Linked DNA regions of Homo sapiens: region 2 is linked to region 1. The links come from fine-mapping of genetic effects on gene expression. Tissue or cell type: neural progenitor cells. Region 1 holds a variant in brackets; the other region holds the start of a gene. All regions are shown on one strand. Distances are from middle to middle.

Region 1 (2,754 bases):
GCCATTATACTCTAGCCTGGGCAACAAGAGTGAAACTCCATCTCAAAAAAAAAAAAAAAAAAAAAAGCTGGGCATGGTGGCGCATGCCTGTATTCCCAGCTACTCGGGAGGCCGAGGCAGGAGAATCACTTGAGCCCGGGAGGCGGAGGTTGCAGTGAGCTGAGATCACACCACTGCACTCCAGCCTGGGGGACAGAGTGAGACTCCATCTCAAGAAAAAAAAAAAGATGTATATATCATTTTAATGAATATTTTAATAACTAGAACATACCACTCCCTGACTGTATGCAGTAACAGAGCATTTATTGGACTACATTAAAGATAACTTTCTCAGAATAACCTTAGACCAGAGTTTTACTATTTCAATCTAAAGCAAACATGAAAGATTAGCTTCTCTATCACTGAAGGGATGGGAGCTTTGGCCCCCAAAAATCTTCGGCAGTGTTGAAAGTTTCTATTGACACGTGGTAATTGTGCACCCACCAGTAAAAAGCACACATCTGGAGACGTTTAATCACTTGGAAAGATGTCAACCCAGCCAAGGTTATGGATAAAGGAAGCAAATGTCCTAGAAAGTACAGATAATACCAAAATATTTACAAAAACAGACCTTCAGCTGATCTCAGTTCTCATAGGCTGCCACCCACTTTGGTGAGTTTGTGTAGAAGGGAGAAGGGAGGTAGAAATCAAAGCCCAAGGCTGCATCCCCACACATGGCGGCAGATGAGACTGGAACTCGGGGTTCAGCCGGCAGCCCTGCATGTGTGTTTGTGTGCACAGAGCCATGCATTTAACAGACAGATACTTCCAAACCTCTGCTGACCCCATTACAGAAACAGACTGTGGATGATAGGCTGAATTTATTATTTTTTCTAATAGAAAAACAAAAATTATTTTTAAGGATAGGTTCTCCTGTGTTGCCCAGGCTGGTTTTGAACTCCTGGCCTCAAGCAATCCTCCCATCTCGGCCTCTCAAAGTGTTGGGATTACAAGCGTAAGCCACTGCACCTGGCCAACAGGCTGAATTTAGAACTATGTTTGGAATGATTTTGGTGTGAGTTTTTTTGGCCACCAACTCTATGGAAATTTCCTAAAAAAAGTTGGATTTTGTTAACCAAAACACCTGCCTTTATGTTTTCGTGATATTGCCTCTTAAAGATTACGGTGCTGTAAGAAGCAGTGGATAAAACCAAATTTTGTTTTAAACTCCCTAAAGGCCTCAGGACTTAGGTTTTCTTTTGATTGTTTTATGTAGGGCCTTATATCAAACCATTCTGAACCAGAGGGAAAATGACAGGGTTGACCAGCCAGAGAAATGAGATGTGTTTGATCCTGTTAAGCCACCTCTGTGAAAGGAAGGCAGGGAGTGTGTCCTCGTTGGAGAGTGACCTGTGACCCCCTTCTGCCCCGGGTGTTGTCAATGTCATGCTGTGGCTGCCACAACGGACTCTTAAATACATTCATACACTCATCCTCAGTCATGCAGGTTTTTTTTTTTCTTAGAGACAGGGTCTTGTTCTGTCACCCAGGCTGGAGTGCAGTGGCACAATCTTGGCTCACTG[C/T]AGCCTTCACTTCCTGGGCTCAGGTTATCCTTCCCCTCAGCCTCCCAAGTGGTTGGGACTACAGGCATGTACTACCATGCCTGGTTAATTTTTTGATTTTTTTTATAGAGCCCAGACTGGTCTTGAACTCCTGGGCTCAAGCGATCTGCCTGCCTTGGCCTCCCAAGATCTTGCAACTCTTAATCCATTCCTTGGCATGCCATTGCCCATGGGGTAAGCCTTCACATGGCTCACTGAGCTCTTCACGATATGGCGGCTGCTGCTGTCTCTGGGCTCTGCCTCTTCCCTCCCACCTCACCACACTCCAGCTATTCAAAAACACATGCTTTGAGTTCCAGGGATGTGCTCCATTCTTTGCCACTATGCCTCTTTATGTTATTTTCTTTGGAATGCCTGTTCCCCAGGGCCCTTTCCTTTCTCCAGCTTCTTCAGCTCTATTTAAACATCCCTTCCTTAGGAAGCCCTCCCTGACTCCCCCACCTCCCACGCCCGCCGACTCAGGGCTGGTTGTTCCCCCCCACCATGTTCCTGTAGTTACTCTGGCTCAGTCTGTTTCACGGTCTTGTTTCCCATTGGGCATGTGCTCTTTAAAGACAAGCTCTGGCATGTATCCCTAGAACCTAGCACAGTGCCTGGCATGTAGAAGCTGCTTAAACAATCTTTATTAAATGAATATGCAATAAATGGCCAGTGGTGAATGCTCTGCTTCCCCCACAGAGATTCTGCACTTTAACCAGTGTCTTGTGAAACCCTGTGCCTTCACCCAGAAGCATGGATCAGTGCCAGCACTGGAGGAGGCTGGCAAAACATCTAGTTCAGTTGTCCCAAACCACTGTGCATCAGAATCACCTAGGGAGTTGAAAAAAGTACAGCTCCCTAGGCCCTGGCTCCATGCAGTAGTCAGGAAGCTGTATTCATAAAACTCCCCCAAAGATTCTGAGGCAGACATTGGACTAATAACTTGGGAACCACTGATTTAGTCCAACTGACTCTTTCTACACATGGAAAGCCTGAGGCCTAGAGAGGTTAAGTGATGCGTACCCAAGACTGTCCAGCTTATAAATAGCATAGCCTGAAATGGAACATCTTTTTTGTATATTAAAAATAATCTTTTTTGTACAGATGGAGTCTCAACTATGTTGCCCAGGCTAGTCTTGAACTCCTGGGCCCAAGCAATCCTCCTGCCTTGGCT
Region 2 (2,500 bases), 33 kb after region 1:
GGCAGATGGATCGCTTGAGGTCAGGAGTTTGAGACCAGCCTAGGCAACATGGCGAAACCCCGTCTCTACTAAAAATACAAAAATTAGCTGGGCATGGTGGCGCGCTCCTGTAGTCCCAGCTACTTGGAAGGCTGAGGCACAAGAATCGCTTAAACCTAGGAGGTGGAGGTTGCAGAGAGCCAAGATCCACTGCACTCCAGCCTGGGCAACAGAGTGAGACTCTGGCTAAAAAAAAATGGGGTCGGGTATGGTGGCTCATGCCTGTAATCCCAGCACTTTGGGAGGCCAAGGCAGATGGATCACCTGAGGTCAGGAGTTCGAGACCAGCCTTGAACCCAGGATGCGGAGGTTGCAGTGAGCCGAGATCACACCACTGCACTCCAGCCTGGGTGACAGAGCGAGACTCTGTCTCAAAAAATAAAAATCCCCTTCTTACAGTTCACGAGTGTCTCCAAGATCTTGCCTCTGCCCTCATCTACTGCCTGTCTTCCCTCTTTCTGCAGTTGCTCAGCCCGGACTCACTGACAAGCCACGGGACCTTTGCACAAACTGTACCTCTGCCTCCTTCCCCAGCACTCCCCCTGAGCACCCTCCAAGTTCCTTTCTCTCGTTCTCCATGGCTTCACAAATGTGATTTCCTCAGGGAAGCCTTCATCCTTTGCCCCTTCCACCAGATCAGGTCACTTGTTACGTTATACCCTCACGGACTTGTCACGTGGGTGTTTATCGGTATGGCTGTCGAATTAGCATCTGCCGCTCTCAACAGACTGTGAGCCATGTGAGGGCAGGAGCCTTGTTTCTCTCTGCCCACCATTGTATACTCAGTGCCTTGCAGAGTGGCAGGCGGCAGGCACTTAATAAATATTGGCTGAATGTAGCCAATGAGGCCATGTGTAACCTATGAGACATAAAATGGGCTCATCAGTATTATTTAAGGAAGACTTCCTGGAGTGGGTAGGATTTGAGTAGGACCTAGAGACGAGGAGGCTGCAAAAAGCAAACCTTGTTAGCTGGTGGACCTGGCCAAGGTACGCCTTCGCCTTGGATCTCATTTCTCATTTGTAAAATGGGCAGGGGTTGGACAAAATGAGCTGAAGCTCTGGCATCCCATGTCCCTAGCATCTCCCAGCCCTAGATCCCACAACTCTCCCTATTCCCTTGAGAAGGGCTGTCCTCCCCAGGCAGGGGCAGAGCCCAGTTTTATGCACAGAATGGGTCCTCCCAAGGCTCGGGTGCCTGATCTGCAATTCTGCGCTCCGCCGCAGGGCGACGCTCGGAGACCAGCCACACTGTCCCAAGTCCCGGCGAAGACCCGCCCGCGGCTCCGTAGGTGCCCGGCCCGCCCCTCGCAGCCTCCTGACTTCCCTTCCTGTCCTCAGCGGCCGGGCCCACGGCCCCGAGCAGCCATGCTGGGCGCGCGGGCCTGGTTGGGCCGCGTCCTTCTGCTGCCCCGCGCCGGTGCAGGCCTCGCCGCGAGCCGCAGGTACGGGCGGGCGAGCGGGCCCCTAGGGCACTCCCTGCGCCTGCCTGCGGGCCCAGTGGAGGGTCTTCCGGACACCGGTCCCCAGTGCCAGTCTGGACCACCCCTGCATGCCTGGCCCTTCCCCCACCCCACCTCCGGTCTGCTCCTGAGACCTGGCTCTGGCTGTAAGGCCCTCCTCCCCTCCTCTCCCGTCCTCATCCCTTCCCTCCTCTCCCCTTCCTTCCAGTGCAGTGCCAGCTCCTCAGGGACTGTTCTGACACTGCTTCCAGGAAGCCTTCCTTGCACCCCAGTGCTGGATGCTGGGTCAAGGGCCTTTCTCCAATAGTACCCTGTGCCCTGTCACAGTCCTTTATTGCTGCATGGACCTTTCGTTATTTAGGTCTGCCTGCAGTCCCACTTCCAGGCTGAACTCCCTGAGGTCTCTGATTCCCTAGGTGTCCTGGAGTCTGGCCCAGGACCTGGCCCCACAGGAGTCCCAGCAGGTGGGCGCTGAGTGAGGGAGTCCCCATGTCTGGTTTCCTCTGTTTGTCCCTCACCTGGTCGAGTCCCAGACCCTACTGATCTTGGCCTGTCCAGCCACCAACAGTAGGCTGCCTTCCAGTGGGGCCACACCCAGGCCTGCCAGAGAGATGCCTCCAAGCAGCTGCTCCAGGAAGGGCCGGGGGAGGGGCCTGGGGAGGGGTAAGAATGGAGCCCCAAGAACCATTCTGCCCATTGTGACCCGCCCTGACCTCACAGCCATCCTTCCCACCGCCAGGCCCAGGAGGTTGGGGGAGACTAACCTGGCAAGGAGCCCCCAATGAGCCACCTCTCCTCACCCCCCAAAAAACATAAGGGGGAGCACAAAGGCCACAGTCTCCCCCATGGTTCAGAAAGGTGGGTTGGGCTGGGAGCAGGGGTCCTACTGGGGTGCTGAGTGAAATGGAGCAGGTGCTGGGGGGCCTGGGAGAAGGTGGGTGGAGGCCCCTGGCTTGCCTGATGCACCAGTCCTCGCCAGGGGTAGCTCCTCCCGGGACA

Evidence for each region. PIP is the estimated chance that this variant, and not a neighbour inherited with it, causes the effect.
Region 2: it holds the start of SPATA20, and the variant in region 1 is fine-mapped to the expression of SPATA20 in neural progenitor cells (Aygun 2021, PIP 0.95).

What each region holds. Positions count from the first base shown.
Region 1 is chr17:50,513,175-50,515,928 of GRCh38, forward strand. The region is part of intron 1 of MYCBPAP (MYCBP associated protein); the gene reads left to right. Among named protein-coding and RNA genes, the nearest start is that of MYCBPAP, 6.1 kb to the left of the region's middle. The variant C/T (reference allele first, on the strand shown) is at 1,563.
Region 2 is chr17:50,545,803-50,548,302 of GRCh38, forward strand. SPATA20 (spermatogenesis associated 20) reads left to right here and starts at 1,372. Exons shown (of 17, transcript NM_022827.4): 1 at 1,372-1,483; 2 at 1,918-1,965; 3 at 2,481-2,500. The coding sequence starts at 1,407. RefSeq lists a silencer at 1,382-1,651.